Linked DNA regions of Homo sapiens. The protein of the gene in region 4 purifies or fractionates together with the protein of the main gene of each other region. This does not show direct contact. Each region holds a gene or a part of one and is shown on either strand. Other genes may lie near its edges.

What was found.
Region 1: the proteins of COL3A1 (region 4) and GALNT6 fractionate together in Homo sapiens (co-fractionation; one large-scale study listed by BioGRID). This does not show direct contact.
Region 2: the proteins of COL3A1 (region 4) and SLC18B1 fractionate together in Homo sapiens (co-fractionation; one large-scale study listed by BioGRID). This does not show direct contact.
Region 3: the proteins of COL3A1 (region 4) and TMEM150C fractionate together in Homo sapiens (co-fractionation; one large-scale study listed by BioGRID). This does not show direct contact.
Region 5: the proteins of COL3A1 (region 4) and PAX3 purify together in Homo sapiens (affinity purification with mass spectrometry; one large-scale study listed by BioGRID and IntAct). This does not show direct contact.

Annotation. Positions count from the first base shown.
Region 1 is NC_000012.12:51,356,267-51,360,940, reverse strand, and holds part of GALNT6 (polypeptide N-acetylgalactosaminyltransferase 6), read left to right. Parts: intron 1-102; coding exon 103-220; intron 221-1,608; coding exon 1,609-1,809; intron 1,810-2,679; coding exon 2,680-2,811; intron 2,812-3,490; coding exon 3,491-3,592; intron 3,593-4,674. UniProt on the Homo sapiens protein: Catalyzes the initial reaction in O-linked oligosaccharide biosynthesis, the transfer of an N-acetyl-D-galactosamine residue to a serine or threonine residue on the protein receptor. May participate in synthesis of oncofetal fibronectin.
Region 2 is NC_000006.12:132,771,052-132,775,109, forward strand, and holds part of SLC18B1 (MFS-type transporter SLC18B1), read right to left. Parts: intron 3,263-4,058; coding exon 3,171-3,262; intron 2,038-3,170; coding exon 1,942-2,037; intron 1,199-1,941; coding exon of another isoform or gene 1,186-1,198; exon of another isoform or gene 1,156-1,185; coding exon 1,081-1,155; intron 79-1,080; coding exon 1-78. UniProt on the Homo sapiens protein: Proton-coupled polyamine antiporter involved in the translocation of polyamines from cytosol into secretory vesicles prior to their release via exocytosis.
Region 3 is NC_000004.12:82,554,881-82,559,554, reverse strand, and holds part of TMEM150C (transmembrane protein 150C), read left to right. Parts: intron 1-4,674. UniProt on the Homo sapiens protein: Nonselective cationic channel with high permeability to Ca(2+). Component of a mechanosensitive cation channel, confers mechanically activated (MA) currents with slow inactivation kinetics. May contribute to proprioception.
Region 4 is NC_000002.12:188,997,957-189,002,052, reverse strand, and holds part of COL3A1 (collagen alpha-1(III) chain preproprotein), read right to left. Parts: intron 3,788-4,096; coding exon 3,734-3,787; intron 3,380-3,733; coding exon 3,335-3,379; intron 2,769-3,334; coding exon 2,670-2,768; intron 2,584-2,669; coding exon 2,476-2,583; intron 2,212-2,475; coding exon 2,158-2,211; intron 657-2,157; coding exon 603-656; intron 518-602; coding exon 464-517; intron 1-463. UniProt on the Homo sapiens protein: Collagen type III occurs in most soft connective tissues along with type I collagen. Involved in regulation of cortical development.
Region 5 is NC_000002.12:222,221,774-222,226,447, reverse strand, and holds part of PAX3 (paired box protein Pax-3), read left to right. Parts: intron 1-1,027; exon of another isoform or gene 1,028-4,674. UniProt on the Homo sapiens protein: Transcription factor that may regulate cell proliferation, migration and apoptosis. Involved in neural development and myogenesis. Transcriptional activator of MITF, acting synergistically with SOX10.

The DNA.
Region 1 (4,674 bases), on a different chromosome or scaffold from region 4:
GGGGGAGGTGGGTTAGGAGGGGAGTCCACAAACAGCTTTCCCCGCCAGGCTCCGCTCCTCCTCTCCCAGAAGATGCACACACTTCTCCCTCTGTCTCTCCAGATCCCCGACGTTTGCTGGTGGCCTCTTCTCCATCTCCAAGTCCTACTTTGAGCACATCGGTACCTATGATAATCAGATGGAGATCTGGGGAGGGGAGAACGTGGAAATGTCCTTCCGGGTGAGAGTGAAGAGGGCTTTGGGGGGAACCACAACATCCCAGGCGACAGCTTGAGAAACATCTCTCAGGCAGAGGTGGCATCAGGGACATCCCATCTGGAACTGAACTAGAAAGGGTGGCTATTTCCCAGTGTGTCTCTTCCTCTTTTCTGCTCCCCCTGTCCATGGCAGTAGGGCTTGGGCAGTCAGCCTGGACAGCTCAAAACAAACTACTGGGCACAACTTCTCAGAGGCAAGGAATAATAGGGGTAATGAGGACTGGACATCTGGTGACTGGGGACTCTTTTGCGATGTCTGTGGGAAAGGGTTAGGGTGAAGATAGAAACAGGTTAGTATGTTCACAACTAGGGCTAGAAAAAAAAAACAGATGAGTAACCAGTCATCATCCTTTTTCTGGAAAAATCAGGCTCCCCTTCCCAGTTCAAAGGACACATGCCCTGGTAACCTTTGAAGTTTCCCTACCTATGTACAATAAGCCCTTCATAACAGTCAGAGAAGATGGTGGCCCCAACTCTGGTGGACCCCAGAACTCTGAGAGATTCCAGGAATTAGGCAAATCAGGATTAGGTCAGGAAGCAAGGATTGCCTCTCCATGAAACCTACACAAATCTCCATGCCATGGAAAAGTAATTAGTAAGTAGATGAGCTCATTTATGAAGTCACCTCTCACGGTGCCTGATGCATATTAAGCACGTAATTGATGCCTGCTGTTACTATAACGATTATGTATTTCTGTTGCTGCCACACTAAAATGAATAACAACATACTTTCCCACCTAAAACCCAAAAGAAGAAACCAGTGGGAGGGATGTCTTCAGCCAGCCCACCAGCATAGAAAAGGGTCACCTGCCAGTCACCCCAACTCCCAGCGGCCCAATCCTAGGCTCCTCCATGAGCCTCTGACCTCTGTTCACCTTCCTAGGCAGCCAGTGTGCTAAGGGCCCAAGTGACTACCACTAGCCACCTAGCAGCCAACTATCCTTGCTATTAATTAACAGACTGATGCTCTGGTTTTTATCACCTGAGGGAGCTGATAAACTCACATTTCCAGGTCAAAAAGCCAAGTGATCAGAGCTCAGAGTAGGTATACAGGCACAGGTAACAAAAATTAACCAGCAGGCTTTTCCCTAAAGTGGGCCCTGGTAAACACAGGACCCTGCAGTCTCCCTGTGCTTAAGTCAGAGTGAACCAACATCAGAAAGCCTGGGATCGTGTAGTCATGGCCTAGGAAGAAGCCTGGTCGGTATCCTTTTTCCCAGGGAGAGAGAGCAGCATTTGCCCAAGTCCTTGGACCTGGGGTCTGGTGCTCTGGGAATAGAATAGAGCTGCTTATGGGGAGACTGTCTCACCTAGCCCACTGAAGGCCTCATCCTGTCTCCTCTTACATCAGGTGTGGCAGTGTGGGGGCCAGCTGGAGATCATCCCCTGCTCTGTCGTAGGCCATGTGTTCCGGACCAAGAGCCCCCACACCTTCCCCAAGGGCACTAGTGTCATTGCTCGCAATCAAGTGCGCCTGGCAGAGGTCTGGATGGACAGCTACAAGAAGATTTTCTATAGGAGAAATCTGCAGGCAGCAAAGATGGCCCAAGAGGTGAGAGGAAATGGTTCTCGGAGAGGTTTAGATGAAGAGAAGTACGGCCCCCAGACCCTGTTCATGGGCCTAATGGCTGGGACCCACCTCATCTCTACCATCTGGCGCCTCCCTTCACCCTCAGGGACCTGTGAGCTAGAGCCCAGGAGAAGGCCACAAGGCACATAGGTTTCAAAAGCTAGAGAATGTTGTCCCTACGCATAGAGTCTCTGCATCCCTTTGGAGGGGAAGGGAGGGAAAGGAGATTTGGAGGAAAAGCCTCTTACGGAGGCTTTGGAGGCTTTGGAGGAATGGCTCTGAGAGCCTCGGCACTGGGGAGTGGGACATAATTGTCTGGGGAGTCACAGGAGATGGACCGATAAGCAGGGGACTCCAAAGCTAAGGCGGGGTTTTTGGGATTGGATGTGAGGGCTGGGCCAGTATCTTTAACAGGTCCTGAGTGGGAATGAACATGAGAGACAGTAGCCCCAGGCGCTCCATGCTATCTGCACTACTTCAGCCCAGACAGGAAGGTCAAAGACTGGTGGAACTGGCTGGGTGTGGTGGCTCACGCCTGTAATCCCAGCACTTAGGGAGGCCGAGGCGGGCAGATCACCTAAGGTGAGGGGTTTGAGACCAGCCTGGCCAACATGGTGAAACCTCATCTCTACTAAAAATACAAAAATTAATTGGGCGTGGTGGTGCGCGACTGTAGTCCCAGCTACTCAGGAGGCTGAGGCAGGTGAATCGCTTGAACCCAGGAGGGGAAGGTTGCAGTGAGCCGAGATTGCACCACTGCACTCCAGCCTGGGCAACAGAGTGAGACTCCCTCTTAAAAAAAAAAAAAAAAACTGGTGGAACTGATCCTTAGGGGGCTGGCTTGATTGACAGAAATCCTTCGGTGACATTTCGGAACGACTGCAGCTGAGGGAACAACTGCACTGTCACAACTTTTCCTGGTACCTGCACAATGTCTACCCAGAGATGTTTGTTCCTGACCTGACGCCCACCTTCTATGGTGCCGTAAGTCTTGAGAACCAACCTGCCTGCCCATCACCACAGCACCCCTTGGAGAAGTTCAAGACCACTGACCCCACAGATGGATGACAAACAAGAATTGAGTTTTGCCCTGCACCCTCCTTTATCCAGGAGGAGGACTGAGAGGCCACGTTGGGGCTTCTAGAGATAGCAAAAAACCTTATAAAGGGCAAAACAACCCACAAGCAGTGGTCCTGAAACATTAGCATGCATCAGAATCACCAGGAAGGCACGGTAAAACGCTAGGGCCCATCCCCAGAGTTCCTGATTCAGAAGGACTCAGGGGAGGTCTGAAAACTTGCATTTCTCACGAGTCTCCAGGTGATGCTGATGGTCCAGGGCTCACATTTGAGAACCACTGCTTATAAGGAAACTCCCACGTGCTGAGGGCTTCTTCCAGGGACCTGGCATCCTGGGAGGTTCCCTGCCTGCCCCACAGAGGGGTTCAGTCCTGCCCTTTCCAGCCTCTGGGGCTCTGCAGCTCACTTTGCTGTTAGCTCCAGGCATGTGGGTTAACGCACAGAGGAGAGAAATGACGGGGGAAATCCAGCCATGCAAATTTGTTGCAGTTGACTGGAATTTGTTCCAGTGGGGCCCCATACCACACATGAGGAACCTCCTGACTGTGCCATCCTGCTTCCCCTCTCTGCTCACCCTTCTGCAGATCAAGAACCTCGGCACCAACCAATGCCTGGATGTGGGTGAGAACAACCGCGGGGGGAAGCCCCTCATCATGTACTCCTGCCACGGCCTTGGCGGCAACCAGGTATGCAGCCCACCCATCTCCGGAGCATCTCCTCTCCTCACCGGCTCCTTTTCTCTACCCTAAAGAGTCCTTTCCTGAGGACTGGGAGGGAGGAGATACCATCCCTGCCCTCAGGAAGCTTCCAGTCGGAGGAGAAGGCATAACACACACAAGGTCTGAATAAGGGACATCCGGAGAGAACGAGGCATCGGTGCTGGGTGTGAGAAGGGGATGGGAGGGAGGGTTGTTCATCAGAGGAGGCTTGAGGAGGCTAGCTGCTGGGGGATATTTAGGGGTGAGGGTGGAAAATTTTCCAGCACATCCCATCACCTGCACTCAACTTCTATCTTCAATGCATCCTCTGCCCAGAAGCTACCACTCTGATCCTACCACCTTCCAGTGACCCCAAAACTAGGTGCCCAGCACTAGTAAGTGAGAGGCACTGAAAACAGAGCCAGAGTGGGGAAAGGAGTGGTGTGGGTCACTGAACAAGCCCGCTGGCATATGTAGGTGAAGACAGTCATTCTACAGCAGTTTCCTGTACCACTGGCCTGCAAGATGATTTCCAGTGGTGCACTGGAGAACATTTTTTATTTTAATAGTAATGTATTAGCAAAAATAGAACAAGCATATCACATGATTTCACGGATGTTACTTAAAATGAGGCTAAGTTAAATTGAATTTTAATCTAATTTAAAGGAAATATGATTAGGCACGGTAGCCCACACCTGTAATCCCAGCACTTTGGGAGGGTGAGGCAGGTGGATCACATGAGCCTAGGAGTTTGAGACCTGTCTGGGCAACATAGCAAGACACCCCATCTCTATAAAAAATTTTTAAAAAATTAGCTGAGTGTGGTGCTACACGCCTGCAGTCTCAGCTACTCAGGAAGCTGACATGGAGGATCGCTTGAACAAACGAATTCAAGGTTGCAGTGAGCTATGATCATGCCACCACACTCTAGCTTAAGCAACAGAGCAAGACCCTGCCTCAAAAAAAAAAAAAAAAAAAAAAAAGAGAAAATATACTGGTTGGGCGCAGTGGCTCACACCTGTAATCCCAGCACTTTGGGAGGCCAAGGTGGGAGGATCACTTGAGCTCAG
Region 2 (4,058 bases), on a different chromosome or scaffold from region 4:
AGACCTTGTATAGCTGCTGCCCATTCAAAACCAATTTTCTCATACAGAAATCCACCCAGCGTTGGTCCCATAAAAGCACTAACAATAGAAAGAAGAAAAAGTATTCAATAGTGCAAAAAATAAATAATTACTTCATGAAAAGCTACATGATCCTTCAATTGTAAGTCTTCATTACATTGGAAGATAAGTACTAAAGATAAAGCTAATTCCTGGGCACAGCATTCAGTAAAAGAAAATAATTCTACCTGATAATGACATTCAAAATTTTTTAACAATTTTGAAATTATTACTGCTTCTGAAAAGTTGATGGCTTATATAAAAATAAAAAATATGAAACAGATTTAAAAAATTCTTTATATTATTCTATTCTCAGTATTTGCAACTAATATAACTCAATTCAAAACAATATATTACATTGTTAGCATAGTTACCCTTCTGGTAGAAGGTAAAAAATAAACAAATGAATGAATAAATGAATAAATTGTAAAAATCAGAGACATGTTTCTATTAAAGGAACTTATAAATACCACTCAAATAAGATAAAGTATATGAAACCATTTTGACTAAGTATTAAACTGTTGGTATAGGCATTGATTGTTGAGTGAAAGGGTATGGATTAGAACTCTGGCTTTCCCCTAGATGAACTGTTTGTCTTTGAGAAACTCATCTGATCCCTCAGTGTTTCAATTTCTTCATCAACATCAAGCAGGGATAGTATTAATATTTTCCATCTTGCAAGTATGAATGAAATTAAATGAGGCTGGGCACAGTGGCTCATGCCTGTAATCCCAGCACTTTGGGAGGCCAAGGCGGGCAGATCACCTGAGGTCAGGAGTTCAAGACCAGCCTGGCCAACACGGTGAAACCCTGTCTCTACTAAAAATACAAAAATTAGCCAGATGTGGTGGTGGGCACCTGTAATCTCAGCTACTCAGGAGGCTGAGATAGAAGAATCTCTTGGACCTGGGAGGCGGAGGTTGCAGTGAGCCAAGATCGCACCATTGCACTCCAGCCTGGGTGATGAGAGTGAAACTCCATCTCAAAAAAAAAAAAAAAGAAAGAAATTAAATGACTACTCACCCAATTGACCACATTGCACTAAAAAGACCTGATACAAGTCCCAATGTACTTAATCCCTCTTCAAACCCATTTTCACTGCAAAAAGAGACATGAGTGTATCCATTATTAAAAGGAAAACCTGTGTGAAAGAAAAAATTGTATGATAGATCAATTAAGATAAACCAAGGATAATCTGGAAAAAAACCAACAGCAAGAATACTCTGCTTCTAAGATAAAAAGCAAATCTTATTTAAAAGAATTTTCATAGTTACATTTACTCCATGGTTTTCTAGAAATAATTTTTCTGCATATATATATGATATTAAGAAGCATGGCTCATTTGCATTAAATACTTATAAAAATATATAATTAAGAAATTCTTAAAATGAGATGAAGATGGAAAGAGAACAAAGGCAACTTTTAAAAAACAGAGATAGTTCCTTATTCCCATGAGAACTATTGAACTGACCCAGCACAGCCATAGTACTTAGTGTTCTTCATCATCATGCCTATTAAACAAAAGAATGATGACCAGGTGACAGATGCTGGTCACTCTAGGCTCTCTCATGGACCTCCTCCATGAAAGAGGAACAATGCTGAGACCTATCTATTTTGCTTTAGCTTTTCAAAATTACTTACATACTGAGGCATAAACCAAGCCAGACATCTGTCCACAACCCATTTTAGCTATTAATGTACTATTATCATTTCTATTAGTGTATTATTACTATTTATATCATAATATCATATGCTACAAAATCATGAAGATTTAACATTGGGGCAAAAATATCCAACATGCTGCAAAATTGAGAAATTCAAGAAAGCCTGTGATACTTACTACTTATTCACAATACAGCTCTTCAAGCAATGGAAGTAACTTACTGTGCACAACTGAGAATTTCCGGGAAAGTTGGAATTATACTCATTCCAGCAGAGAGGCCACTTACAACTAATATCAGCACCAGCAGCCAGAGCTGACTGCAAAAGGGTTTTGGAGAAAACAAATACAAAAAGAAAAACATTAGCGTTTTAACAAACACAAAGCTTAATGCTAAGGAAGTGAGGATCCCTGATAAGTTATTTCACCGATTATGTGCCTAGTCTCATTCCCTTTCCCATCTAACCCATTTCATTCAGTTAGAGTGTCCTTTAGCTCCTTACAGTTTTGGGGGCGGGGGGGTGGGGGGGAATTCATCCTGATATCTCCATCTCTTTGGTCCTTTGGTTACACATATCACATATCTGGAGCCAACCTGGCTTCTTCTCACCAGACAAAATCCCTTCAAAATTGGTGAAAACGTCAGTACTAAAACTGTTCTTTCAATCACTCGGCTTTGAACTTCAATTAATTTAAAGATGGCATAGAAGGAAAGAGGTAAAAGAAGAGTCAGGAAACACATTTGTTCCATGTGAGGAGACTATGCCAGTTACTTAATATATGTTACCAGATTTAATCCTTGTAATGTAAGTACTATTATCAGCTCCTTTTTGTAGATGAGAAAACCGAGGCTCTTGGAAGTTAAGTGGTTTGCTTATTAGTACATGGCAAAGCCAAAATGTAAACTCAGGTCTGAAGGACTCTGAAACCCCTTCCTTTCCAGGTTACTATGTTTTATCCCAGAAGTACCTGAAAAGGTCTAAGAAGTTCAGTTTATTTTAGCAACTAAATTACATTAAGCAAGGTCTAATAAGCAGCTACTACATGCTAAGGATGATACAGAAAGAAAAATAGATTTGGTCCCTGCCTCAAGGAAAAAGAAAAGAAAAAAAAAACAAAAATATATTCTAAGAACTATCAACTAAAGGTAAGTAGCAACAAATTCTATTTTAAAAATATAACAAAAGTATAAACAAGTATGTACAATTGAAATACAGAAGGAGAATATGCATTTTTGTCATTTGAGACAGATTTTATGCATTTTTTTCTGTTGTCCCACTGCTAGCTTCTAGTAGGGTAAAATATTGTCAGCCTAACAATTCAATAGAGTCCTAAAGTTAATTATTTAAATATTAATGTTCAAAATACTAAACTATACCAATGTTAAAACAAAATTTTTCGAAATAATTCCTAATGTTATTTGGCCAAACATACAGAAGAAGAAAAAAATTACCTTTTAATATGCAAGATTGGGACAGGCCCTAAGAGCATGTAGCACCCGGCTGTGATTAAGTTGCCAAACACCAGAAGCCATTTCCTTAGAGGCTGGTAAAGGAGAAAGAGAGTCAAAATGATTCTTAGAGGCAAAGACCCTCCATAATCAAACAACGTAAAACATTAGTAAAAAACACAAATCATGATATTCAAAAACCCAAATACAATGAAGAAAACAAAACTTTACATTTAAAAGAAAGTAAGGAGATGATAAACTCGCAAGCAATGACGATATATAACAAGGCAGAAAGTGAACAAAGGACAAAGATTTCTTAGCAGGGGAGTGCATTGCAGATCAGATTTTGCACATGATGAACTATTACAAATATAACAACGAAAAAACTCATTATAAAAAGCAGTAACCGGCCAGGCACGGCGGCTCACACCTATAATCCCAAAACTTTGAGAGGCCGAGGTGGGAAGATCCCTTGAGCTCACAAGTTTGAGACCAGACTAGCCAACATGGTGAAACCCTGTCTCTATTAAAAAAATACAAAAATTAGCTGGGCAGGGTGGTGGACATCTGTAATCCCAGCTACTCAGGAAGCTGAGGCAGGAGAATTGCTTGAACCTGGGAGGCGGAGGTTGCAGTGAGCCAAGATCACACCACCGTACTCCATCCTGGGCAACAGAGCAAGACTCTGTCTCAAAAAAAAGCAGTGACCACAAAAAAAACCCACCAAGTATTAATAGTTACAATACCTAGAAAAATCACATTATTAAAAAATTACCTGCTAGAGACTGAATGCTTATGTCCCCCCAAAATTTATATGTTAAATCTTAACACCCAATGTGATGGTATCTGGAGGTGAGCCTTTGGGAGGTGATTAGTTAATGAAGGTGCAGC
Region 3 (4,674 bases), on a different chromosome or scaffold from region 4:
GAGGCGGAGTCTCACTCTCTCGCCCAGGCTGGAGTGCAGTGGCACAATCTCAGCTCACTGCAACCTCCGCCTCTTGGGTTCAAGCGATTCTCCTGCCTCAGTCTCCCAAGTAGCTGGGATTACAGGCGTCCACCAGCATGCCTGGCTAATTTTTTTTTTTTTTTGTATTTTTAGTAGAGACGGGGTTTTACCATGTTGATCAGGCTGGTCTTGAATTCTTGACCTCAATTGAGCCACCCGCCTCGGCCTCCCAAAGTGCTGGGAATACAGCCAGGAGCCACTGTGCCCAGCCCCTGTCACATGGGTCCGTGTGAAGAGAGTCCACCAACAGGCTTTGTGTGAGCAACAAGGCTGTTTATTTCACCTGGGTGCATGTGGGCTGAGTCCGAAAAAGGAGTCAGCAAAGGGTGGTGGGATTATCATTAGTTTTTGTAGGTTTTGGGATAGGCGGTGGAGTTAGGAGCAATGTTTTGCAGGCAGGGGGTGGATCTCACAAAGTACATTCTCAAGGGTGGGGAGAATTAACAAAGAACATTTTTAGGGGTGGGGAAATTACAAAGAACCTTCTTAAGGGTGGGGGAGATTACAAAGTACATTGATCAGTTAGGGTGGGGAAGAAACAAATCACAATGATGGAATGTCATCAGTTAAGGCTATTTTCACTTTTGTGGATCTTCAGTTGCTTCAGGCCATCTGGATGTATACGTGCAGGTCACAGGGGATATGATGGCTTAGCTTGGGCTCAGAAGCCTGACAGCCCCTACTTATTTTAACTATAAATTTTTACTCCTGGAGCTGATGGTGCCATGTAGCTTTATATTTTTTCATAGTTGTTCTAAGTATTTTAAAACTTGTTCATAAATTATTGGAACTTTAAGTTATTGTTATCACCAAATATCATTTCCTGGTATGTTTAGATTTTTTTTTTTTTCTGGTATGTTTAGATTTTGAAAGACAACTTGTGGCAATGGAAAATCAATCATCATGCAAAGAGATTTTAGATCAGCCATTTAGAATATTTTGAGATAATCGTGAAATCTTTGGCAGTAGCCTTCAAATTCAGCCCCAAACTATTCTGAGTCAAACCAGCTTTGGTAGGTAGGGCTTGAAGCTCTTTTACTAAGTGAGAAATTAATATTTTCCTTTTTGGCATCTATAAACAGCCTTTTCTAGATCAGTGCTGTCCAAAAGAACTTTCTGCATTGATGGACATGTTCTGTAATCTGTCCAGTATGATAACCATGAGCCACATGTGGCTATTGAACGCTTGAAATGTGGGCTAGTGTAATTGAGGAACTGAATTTTAAATTTTATTTAGCCGTAATTAATTTAAATAGCCACATGAGGCTAGTGGCTACCATATTGGACAGTATAGTTCTGAATTTTCTCCCCATATTTCCTAGAGAGATAGCATTTAAAGGCAATTATCCTTTAATTAGAAAAAAAAAAGTGGCAATTGGCATTGATAATACCAGAATTGAGATTTGACTTCATAATCCTATTGCTATGAAAAACCACTTGTGAGGCCACGTGCAGTGTCTCACGCTTGTAATCCCAGCACTTCGGGAGGCTGAGGCGGGTGGATCATGAAGTCAGGAGTTTGAGACCAGCCCGGCCAATACAGTGAAACCCTGTGTCCACTAAAAATACAAAAAAAAATTAGCTGCGCATGGTGGCAGGTACCTGTAATCCCAGGGAGGGTGAGACAGGAGAATCGCTTGGTCCCGGGAGAGGCAGAGGTTGCAGTGAGCCAAGATCGTGCCACTGCACTCCAGCCTGGGCGACAGAGCTAGACTCCATATCAAAAAAAAAAAAAAAAAGAAAAAGAAAAGAAAAACCACTTGTACTTGCTCTGAAGAAGATATTTTGTGCTGAAGTTCAACCCTACTCTAAAAACTGTTTCTCTTTTTAATTTCTATGTGTCTGCTAGCCTCAATAATAAGCATCACCCAGAGTTGTTTAGATGCCTGGCCCCTCGTGTCGGTGTTCATGAACTTGGGCTTATTTGCTCTTTTGCACATTACAGATCATGTATTCTTAGAGTCAGTTTCTGTACGTTTCAATTTTTCAAGGGAGAGGAGGTTCAGAGAAAGGTAGGAAGTAGGTAGTGATGCACAACTCTCGCACTCTTCCCTTGATTACAATCACAGAGACCCTGTGAAAAGTCTGACAAATGGGTACCCCTGGCTCCAGGAGCAGCTGAAGCCTCTGCCTCTGTTGGTTTCTGCCCTTCTTGTCTGGTTTCTTTCTCTTAGGTTTCAAACCCAGATCCTCTTGCTCAAGTCTAGCCTGTGGAGATTACCAAATCCACTTAAGGTGTAACCTACCATTATTTTTAGTAAAGCCATTAAAATGGGATTTGATTTAGCATCAAGCATGTTGTTTCCATTTTTAAACTAATTTGCTTTGATTAAACCCATTATTTTGATCATGGAGAGGGACATGTTGTTAATTAGACTGTTTTACAAGACACTGCCTCTCATGTTTCTTGGGTGAGTGATGCTCCCGCACCCAGCATAGGCATCTAGGGTACTTCTCTCCAGGCCAGAGCTCAGGGTCCTGGGGGTTCCCCTCCTCTGGAAGGGACTCTTCCTCAATCAATTATTTAAAAATTTATTGACTATGTTTGTGCCTACTAATTATAGGTTGAAATAACTCCCAAATTATCTCTGTGTTGAAGATATTAACACCCCCTGATAACATTTCCCAAATTAGTGTCCATCCCATAGGGTGATGGGGATGCTTGAATAAATGCTCCATATAATCTTTTTTATTATTTTTTTTTGGAGATTTATAATGCACAATAGCATGGTAAAGCCTCTAAGATGAGATACATATACTTATTTAACTTTTTATTGTTATTGTTTTCTGTTCTTTTCTTTTCTCTTTTAATAGAGACAGAGTCTCACTCACTCTGTCACCCAGAATGCTCAGTGCATTCTTGAACTCCTGTCCTCAAGGGATCCGCCCACCTCAGCCCCCCAAGTAGCTGGAACTACAGGCGTGTGCCACCATGCCTGGCTGTTAGTGTTTTCAAAACAATTTTTCTTACAACACTTACTGTAGTATTTTTCAAATTACATGTCTTGGGTCATAAAATCAATTGAGCAGGTTAGGATCAGCATTTTTCTTGATGAAATAAAATGTCTAATAGAAGTGGTCACTGTGCATCCTTTTTATTGACGGTTACTAGTGTTTGATGAAACTTTGGCTCCTCCATGTATAACAAGTACCAGGCCACAAGGCAGTGGAGAGTAGTGGTTCAGAGCACTAGAGAGTCTGGGCACGTTGGCTCACGCCTGTAATCCCAACACTCTGGGAGGCCAAGGCGGGTGGATCACTCGAGGTCAGGAGTTCAAGACCAGCCTGGCCAACATGGCAAAACCCCGTCTCTACTAAAAATACAAAATTAGCCGGGTGTGGTGATGTGTGCCTGTAATCCCCCCTCCAAGAAAAAAAAAAACAACACTAGAAAAACAGGACCCCGGACCCCTAGGTTCAAATCCTAACTCTGCACCACTCAGTCCATATGTAATAAGCAGCATATATGCATATTTATTATTTGCATTATTGTTACATAAGTGTATATGTGTATACCGGTTCATGATGTAAAATATTGCCTATGAAACTAGGCTTGGGATCCACTTGAGGAAACACTGTCCTAAGACAAAAATAATAGCTAATAGTGAGTAACATTATTGAGTGCTTAACAAGTCCTCCAGCTGAATGCTTTGCATCTTATCTTGTCTCTCACAACAGTCCTTTGGTGTAGGTATTGCCATTATCCCGCAGTACCTACATCCCAGTAAGTAGTGAAGGCAGAATAGGAACCCACGCAATCTGGTGACAGCCCAAGCGTTCAACCACCTCACCTCCCATCTTACAATGTGATAGCGATACATAGATGTACATCTACAAAACTGTGAGGCTCAAAAATTGTAGAGCATTGTACAAGTGCGGAAATAAGCTGATGCCAGTTATTTTCTGTGTAAGAGGAGGCCTGATGGGTGATAGGGGAATCATTGCACATTTAGGCAGGAAGAGACCTCACTGCTGCCAGCCTGTGGTCTCTGAAGGTTAACGCCCTTGAAAAAACAGCTATATGCCCAAAGAAATATGCTTGTCCCAGAGACTGACTACAGATTTTGTCTCCAGAGCTGTCTTCCTTCCCTCCTAACCACTTCCTAACTTCTGCACACATTTGTTTTTAGCAGATAGTGACAAATGGTCTCAGTGGATATGTCTGTCTTATAAATCTACCACTATTTACTACATCCTAAGTTATTTGTCTTTTCAAAATCACCTCCTGCCCACAAGTGCCTCGTGACATAGTTTTAATAAAATAAATAGAAAACAATGTTGTTTTAAGAATTTCATATGACAAAAGAAGTCTTGAAAGTGAGGCTGGAAATATTTTTTCTCCAGTGCAATCTAGAAAGTAAAACTAATTTCATTTTGGAAGTAGATTTCAGTTTTCCTTAAAGGTCAAACTTAATGTAATCGGATCACTTAAAGTCCATAGACTTTGTCAGGTAGACTAGAAGAGGCAACAGCTTGCCATCATGCTTACTTTCCTTTAAAAAGTACAGAAGCTGTGTCTAACGTGAAAAATTCTAAAGCTATTCAGATTTTGTTCAAGGCTGTAGAATCTTCCATCTCTGAGGACAGTGATCC
Region 4 (4,096 bases):
TATTTAACACATTTATATATATAGATATTTATGTATTTCAATATATGGTAGAAGCTTAACTGAAAAATTAACTGATTTATTTTTAAAAACCATTTACTAAATATCTTTCCAGAGTCTTAAATCCTGAAGGTCAAGACTTTTAAATCTAGAAGGAGTCTCAGGCAAAGATTCTATAGGCTTAAGAAATACCTAATTACAAACATGTACTACTTGTGCAATTCATGTATTTTTTCCAAAGTTATTTAGGAAAGAAATCCTGATTTAAAATGGTCTCCTGTGAATGTTAGATTTAAGAAATTTAACATTCCCTTGCATGCTATATGGTTCCTTATATGGTTTTTGAAGATAATATCTCCAAATTGAGGCTCAGGGAACTGAGGGCAAAACTGCCAAAAAGGGAAGCATAAGTAGCTACTGTCTGTATGGGGTTAAAAAGTATGTTGAGAATGTCTTTAACACTTACAGGGCTACCACGAGGTCCAGCTATACCTGGAAGTCCGGGGGCACCACCTTCACCCTGGAAAAAGAGAAGCCATGTCACTGTCTTGCATCCAAAAGAGAGAGACATTTTCTTTTTATATCCAGGTAGTATTAAGGGTTACCTTATCTCCAGGCTGGCCAGCTGGGCCAGGAGGACCAATAGGACCAGTAGGACCCTAGAGGAAATAAAAATATTTTTTAATTTTGAAGATACAAATATCGTTTTTTGCATTAATCAAACAGAAAGTATATAGACATAGATACCTAATAAACTAGATAACATACTTTTTAAAAATTTTTATGGCTTGAATGCTATGCTTTTCTCTCAATGTGTAAATACTGCAGAGCTCAGTAAACACAAGCCTCTTTGGGGATAACTCTGGGAGAAAATAGGATTCAGCAATAGTTTATTGATTCATTTATCTTTATCTCCATTGTAGAAGATAAATAGGATGTCATGTAAGATCTTACAGTAATGTCTTTTTAAATTAAAGTACATTTCTTTATTCAATTGCTTGATAATTTAAATGTTTTCTCAAAGTCTCATTGTACATATTAAATTTTTCAACTTGAAATTTTCAAATAGTAGTTTTACTTATATTACAAAACTGAAGTATTGAGCACTCTTTTTACCTGAATGACGGCTTATCTACTTAGTCTGTCAAAAGCGAAGCATTTATGAATTTCTTTAAGGCAACTATTATATAAATTTATTAAAAGACTTAATTATAATCATATTTAGGAGATGTTTTTTGTTTTGTTTTTGACTTTTAGTTTGAATTATAGATTCATAGGATGCTGCAAAGGAATATACAGGGAAATTCTGTGCACTTTTCTCCCAGCGTCCCCTAATGTTAACATCTTACACAACTATAATATAATATCAAAACTAGGAAATTGACATTGATACCATCCATAGAGCATGTTCAGATTTCACCAGTGATACACACACTCATTTATGTGTGTGTATATGTAGCTCTATAGAATTTTATCCCATGTGTAGATGTGCCTGACTACCACCTCAATCAAGATACTCAAATGTGCAATCACCATAAGACTCCCTTGTGTCATGTCTCCATAGCCACATCCATCTCTCTCTTTCTCATTCTTAACTGCTAGCAACCACTAATCTGTTCTACATCTCTACAAGGAAGTTATTTTGCAAATATTGTAGGAATGGAATCATGCAGTATGTATCCCTTGGTGACTGAATTTTCTTCACTGAGTATGTTGTCCTTGAGGTTTGTATAATTTGCTGTGTGTACAGCATCAATTGTTCATTCCTTTTTGTTGCTAAATACTATACAATTTTTAAATATTAAGTCTATTAATGAGGAGTACTTACTATATTGAATTTTGATGACTTTTAGTTTCTTAATGAGCAGCATTGATTATCCTAAATTTCAGTGATTATCTCAGATTTTAGTGACTCACAAATGCTAGTTTGTGACCTTTATCGTACTCTTGAGGCTTTTTCATTCTTTAGTCACTGTAGATCTATCAAGTAGCCATAGATATAGACCACAAATTTCATTATAAATCAAGTCATTCGGGTCTTTAGGTGGTAAAATATCTAATTTCTCTTGAGTAGTTTTTGGAAAAAATTAAAGTTGAAGTGCAGGACTGTCCCATATGACATATAGATAAGGCCTGCTTCTCCTCACTGGGAATACTCACCCTTGGGCCATCTTTCCCTGGGACACCATCAGCACCTGGACCGCCTGGTTCACCCTGTCAAATAAAAGCCAATGTCATCAGATTCAAAGTATCTTCAGTGAAAATCAGCCAAGAAGAGGAGTAACTCTCAGGATTTGTAGGGATATATATTGGGTGTTCTAATTCATTGTTGCTTTAGGAATCCATCTTAAATTTCACTTACTATAAAATGATAACATTAATTTTGAAAATACAGTCGATTACTTTCCAGGAGTGTTGCTTTTTTTAAAACCTACAATGACTGATTTATTGAACAATTAAGAGAAAACAAGTCAACACCTTGTCACCCTTTGGACCAGGACTTCCAAGACCTCCTCTTTCTCCAGGCATTCCTTGCAGACCAGGAGTACCAGCAGCACCAGGTGGCCCAGGAGGACCAGCAGCACCCTGAAAATAAGTGAGAAATAATAAATGATCAGAAGGAAATCAAATGCATTTTTTAAACCTAGGTGAATGGAATGCTGTGGAGTTACCTTTCCTCCTTCGGGACCAGGGGGACCAGCTCCACCTCTAAGTCCTGGGGCCCCTGCCAATCCAGGAGGTCCACGTTCACCAGGGGCACCAGCATCACCCTGTGACAAAAATATGTAAATAACCATATTAGACAACCCAAAGCTAAAAACAAAGCACCTTAACTTGCATCATTTTGAATCAGGCCACTAGGTTATTATATTGTGAACAATCTAGAAATTTGTATACTTAAAAATAGTTGAACAGCTGGGTGGGAACTAGAAGCTTAAAAGAGTGTCTAAAATAAAACTTGGATACTTAGTCTGGTTAAGTGTGAGCTGTCATTGAAATACTTATTATTTTATTCACAAGAGCAACATTTTAAAGTTCTTTTTACCAAAACAGTTTTCCTACATAGAATCAACATATTGGCAATATTTTTCCGTTTGAAATTTTAAGCCCGTATTTGATTCTGTAGTGATTATGAATGTCAGAGAATTGGACCTTCCAGATTAAAGCAAATTTAATGTATTGAAAGTGTCTTGAGTTTCTCTAAGTGTACTTACCAAACATTTGCAATGATGCTCTTTTAAAGAAAGAGTATTTTGGCTTGATATACTAAAAATATACTACTAATCAATTGCTCTATAACCTGCTGAAGAAGGTAGAGAATAAATTGAAATACTACCTTGCCTCCTGGAGCTCCAGGTGCACCGGCATCACCCTTTGGACCCTGGGAGATTGGCATTATATGATTAGGCCCATATCAGAGTGCATTTTATGTAAATATAAGCAAATATGTAAATATAAGCAAATATGTAAATATAAGCAAAATACACATTTGTCATGTTGGCATACTGTATAATTTTTCAAATCTTGAAACTATGAACTCTCTATTTTATGGTAAAATTCAAACTCTATATAATAGTTATCTTTTAAATAATTTGTCTTTGTTTTGATAATATTTCAAAACTAAATGTTAAATCTCAAATATCATGGCATAAGAAAATTAAGAAGTTAATAGTTGACAAACAAACAGTGTGTATTCTTTTTGTTTCTGAGTTTTGAATAATGAAACGTAACTTACTGGTTCCCCAGGTTTTCCATTTTCTCCTGGAGGACCACCTGTACCAGGCAAGCCCTAGAAAGAATCATATTTGTATTAGGTAATTACCTCAAACATGGCTTATAGAAAAGCTTCTCATATGTACACATGTTTCTGCAAGATATTAAAAAAAAGTTCCAGTGGTCTTGTAGGGGTAGAAACGTTGTGCCACTCAAAATCCAGTGACACATACGTGATAATCATATTTTACAAACCCATTTTCATCTCTCTCTGTTCTTTCAATTGCTACACGTAAAAATGTATTGACCAGCATGGCAGGATAGACTTGGCTATATGGATTTATGTTATAATAAAAATAAGTGTAACCAAATAGAATTATTTGAG
Region 5 (4,674 bases), about 33 Mb from region 4:
ACATGCATGGGAGCATGGCCTTCCTCCTGTTCAATCTTGCCCATCCTGTTTCCAACCTGCTCTCCAAATGGTGGCCAAAGTTGGATAGCAGCAGTGATTGGAAGGCTGGGAGAACCTTTCATAGAAAGAGAAAGGAGGTGAGAGTGAAGGAGAAGGTCCAGGGAAATGAGCAGCTTGCCCTGAATTTCCCTACTTGGAAAGTACTGTACTTGGCATGTCAGCATTCGACATCCTGAGTCTAGTATTTAACCAAACGTTTTACAATCTTGTTGCGAATTCTCTTTCTAAGGATTAACTATTATGTTCTCTCCCCATTTTTCAAATTGCATTTGAAGTAATCCGTCTTGAATAATGTAGGCTGAATTGCCTTTGAGAACACCACCAAAAATGTGAACCAGTAATTTATTGATGGGCAAAATTAGGCTGACACCAAGGGACAATTAGCACTAATCCATGAAACTTGGAAGCAAATTTGACCTAAGCCTCCATTCAAGTCAAACCGGCTTTCAATTATTTGAGGTGTTTTCTGGGCACTTTCCTGTTTACTCACAGACACAAAAGGCTTTGGCTGGACACCACAGAGTGAAGGAAGCAAAACAGAGCTTCAATTCTTGGTTTTCTCAGATAGAAGTGTCAGTGTGAGACTTTCTATTTAATAGCTAGCATTTACTGAACATTTAATATCTCCTTGGTATTCTTTTAGAAGCTTAGATTGCATTGCATTTTTAATAGTCACAACAATCTTGTGAAGTAGTTTTTATATTCCCCGTTTAGCACATGGGAAAACAGAGACCCCCAGATATTAAGCAAATTGTTCATGGTCACAGAAGTATTAATATAAATGAGGAGCTGAGATTCAACTTTTGCCTGGTCTGTATTGCACACATGTGAATAAGATGTATTGTTGTATCTTTACTGTAGAAAGTACTAGTTTCCCCGCCACCCGCCAACTTGTAATGTTGAGAGTCTGAACAAACTGGTTTGCTTACTCATAAAAAGTATGAAAATTTCTTTTCTAATTATTATCTTTTTTTCCTAGTTATCATGATGTTATGGGGCTCTTTCAACCAATTTAAATTTTGTTTCAAAAAATCATTGGACATTATACTACTAGAGAAATGCATGTAAAGATCATTTTTCAAAGACATGAAATATGGCTTTATGGAAGGACTCAGTAGAGAGACATACAAGTTGGGAAGTACAGGCGGCAGATAAAAATGAACCGGGCTGCAGTTTATCAAATGAAATAACAACTTGCTTTGAGGGAGACTTTTGATGTAATATTATACATGCAATGATAGACAATTAACTGTGTCTAATAGTATAGTAGGTTACTGACAAATTTGTGCCTCCTGCCCCCACTTCCTTAACATGCCAAGTGTGATGCGGAAGGCCAGGTAATCTTGTGTGGGGATAGTAAAATTACATTGAATTGTAGATCATATAATTTCATTTAAAGGTGTATAGCCAACTTTGTAAATCTTGTTCTTTCCACCCTACTGGCAAAGACATTGGGTGGTAAATTTCTGTTCTCTCCTAGAACATCAGTCATAGGCCAGTTTGCCTCTGTTGCTACTGCTATTCTTTTCAAAACAAGGGGAAATTTCTAGAAAGTGTAACTACTAAGTTATAAATATGTATATTTTAGATGAATTTATTCAGTGTTATACACTCACACATGCCATTCTGCAGATTATTCATTGATTGTATGTTAGGAATTAGTGATACAATATTGAAAGAGTTATCTAAGACTTAGGAGTATCAAGAAAATTTCAGTTAAATGTGGGCTGATAACAGCCTCCTAGGATCACTACGCTTGGTTCGTTCAGGTATTGAAAGTAAAGGTCATTTCTAGGGTACTCTTTTTAGTCTACTAAAAATAGAAAATTTGTCTGTTTTGAGTTTCAAAACATAAAGAAGGCAAAGACCAGTTCTTAATTTGCAAAGTTAGTGTGTTTTTCCTTTAATACTTCTTTTGGCAAATTCAGCTGGTTCTAGGAAATGCAGAAGGCTGGCAATGGTAAGATGATAAAAAATCAGGTTAAATGACCAGAGACAGGCAGGCCAGTCCTCACTAAGCCCTGGTTCTCTTAGGAATAGCCCTCTGGATTTATTTAGCCTAAATTTAAACAACATTTAAATTCCTTCCTTTGGGAATCTCTTGAACCTCTTGCTGAAGGTTTGTTTTTCAGTAAAGATTTGCTTCACAACAATTTCTCTTCATTTTTTATTGTGGATATAATAGATACTGTATAATAAATATAAGGACTTTTTAATCCAACTCCTGGTGAGTTTACTCAATGTCTTTGTTACCTATTTATATCATTTTAGAAAATATGAAAACAAACCCCCAAACCCTTATACTCTTACTCTGTTTGGATTCTGTCTTTTGAAGGTATTTGTAGAAACTCATGATGTTTCTTCTTTATTATCTCAGCAAAGACATTTTTGTTTTTAAAAATTGGGTTATGGTGGAGTTAGAATGAACCTTGAGTCAATAGTAACTTGAGATTGATGGAGAGATCAGGCTTCACCACTCCTGGGTTTACTTATCTAAAGGTTACAGAAGGCAGGTGGCACAGAGAGATTGCCAACAAATCTGACAAAAACCGAAGCGTACCTTTCTGAGTTCTTCATAAAGGGTTTCACCAGTGGAACTGAGCATAGTAAATCTTCATGAGTGAAGTTACATCAAAACTTTTGGAAGTCCAGTTCTCCTCCCAGCAATATAAAGCTGGAGATGCACTGTACATCGCTGGTCTAGATAGTTGCAGAGGACTACCTGATCTGAGCCGGGAGTACCTCCTTAGTCTTGACGTATTATAATATAAACTACAACCACAGTGTGTGTTATGGTACAGTGCACTCAGGCATGAACATGACCCTAATTTCCCACCTTCAGCCTCCCCAAGCTAACACAGTTTGTTCCCAGAACTTTCTTGAAAATGATTTTCTTACCCTGATGCCTTTGGGAGCCGTGGTAACAGGCACTCAGACCGGGGCAGTGAGAAAGCACAGTTAATGCAGACCTGAAATTAAGTGCTGTTCATGGTTCTATTACCCCAGGTGGCAATTTATTAAGTTAAGTAAAACTCTAATTCAATTATGTATCAACATGGGAAAATATTAACTTACCTCGTTTTCCTGTTGGAAACTTAAGGAGTATTAAATGTTGATGTTTTGAGGAAGTTCAAACAGCTTTCCTTACCAGTATCTTGCAACAATGGCGAGAGAAGACAAAACTCTTTTCAGACAAATGCTTGGGTGAGTACCAAAAGTTTGAGCAAATCCCTCGGCAAAGGATTTATTAAATTGAGCTTCTTCTCCAGAAAAATCTTTTCCTCCGCTCTTAAATGATCTGACTTTAAGAATTACAATTAAGTTGCAAAATTGTTAACATTGCTCTGTAAGGAAATCAATTCTCATCTTCTCTTAAGCTGGCCTCCTGTAACAAGCTGCATCTGCCTGCCCTGTAGGACAGGATGGATGTCACTTCCATCTCAAGCGATCGCTCGTCGAAATTAGAATCAAATTTTAAAATGAGCTGAAACTTTTTGCTTCCACTTTAGAGTTTTCCTGATTCTCTGTGCTTCCAAATGTGAAGTTTCTACCTCTAGCGAGCAATTATTTTGGTCTCCTTGACTGCTCTGTGAATCCCATGAGGACAAGGCATCAAACTACCAGAGTGCAGAGATCCTACTTGATTCCCTTTATATCCTTCCAACCCCAAACACAGTGCTTTCCTCCATATTAAGTTTCAATGGGTGGCTCACGCCTGTAATCCCAGCACTTTGGGAGGTCGAGGCGGGTGGATCACCTGAGCTTAGGAGTTCAAGACCCACATGGTGAAACCCCGTCTCTACTAAGAATACAAAAATTAGCTGGGCATGGTGGCGGGTGCCTGTAATCATAGCTACTGGGGAGGCTGAGGCAAGAGAATCCCTTGAACCTGGGAGGCGGAGGTTGGGTTGAACTGAGATCCCGCCATTGCACTCCAGACTGGGCGACAGAGCAAGACTGTCTCAAAAAAAAAAAAAAAAGTTTCAATGAACTTTTGATGTAGGAATTAGAATATCTTTAGTTGGTAGAAATCCTCTCTCATTTTAGGGGAAACATCATGTGTGCTCCGTGGAAAAATCACCCCAAGTTCTACATTTAAACTTTGCAGATGTAAGAGTTGGGCAGGAGCACAGGACCCATGAAAGGCCTTATATCACAATTTCTCAATAGTTTAGATATTCAGTTACATTTCTTGCTGCCATGACTGCCCTTTCTCTCCATTGACTCATACAAAATACTTGGGCTTTGAATTATTTGAGGGCATTTTATTATATTGTATCAGGCTTTTCTGAATGTACCTGGTTAGCATAGTGCTTGACACAGCGTGTTCTAGGAGCTTAAAGCTGTTGTTGAAATAAATAAGACACAAATGAATTATTTTAGATAAAAAAAGGCTTTCATTTCTTGAAACACTTACCTCTTTGGCATTTATTTCCACCGAGATCAGTGCAATGTTTCATATTTTGGAAGAGATGAAAAAAGGGCTCCACTTATCCTCTGTTCAATTTATATGACCATCCAGAAGCTATACCCCTAGTGACCACAGAAATACAGAGACAGACTAATAAGAATATAAAATACAAGGCTTGGAGTAAAAGGCAAGGCCACATTTAG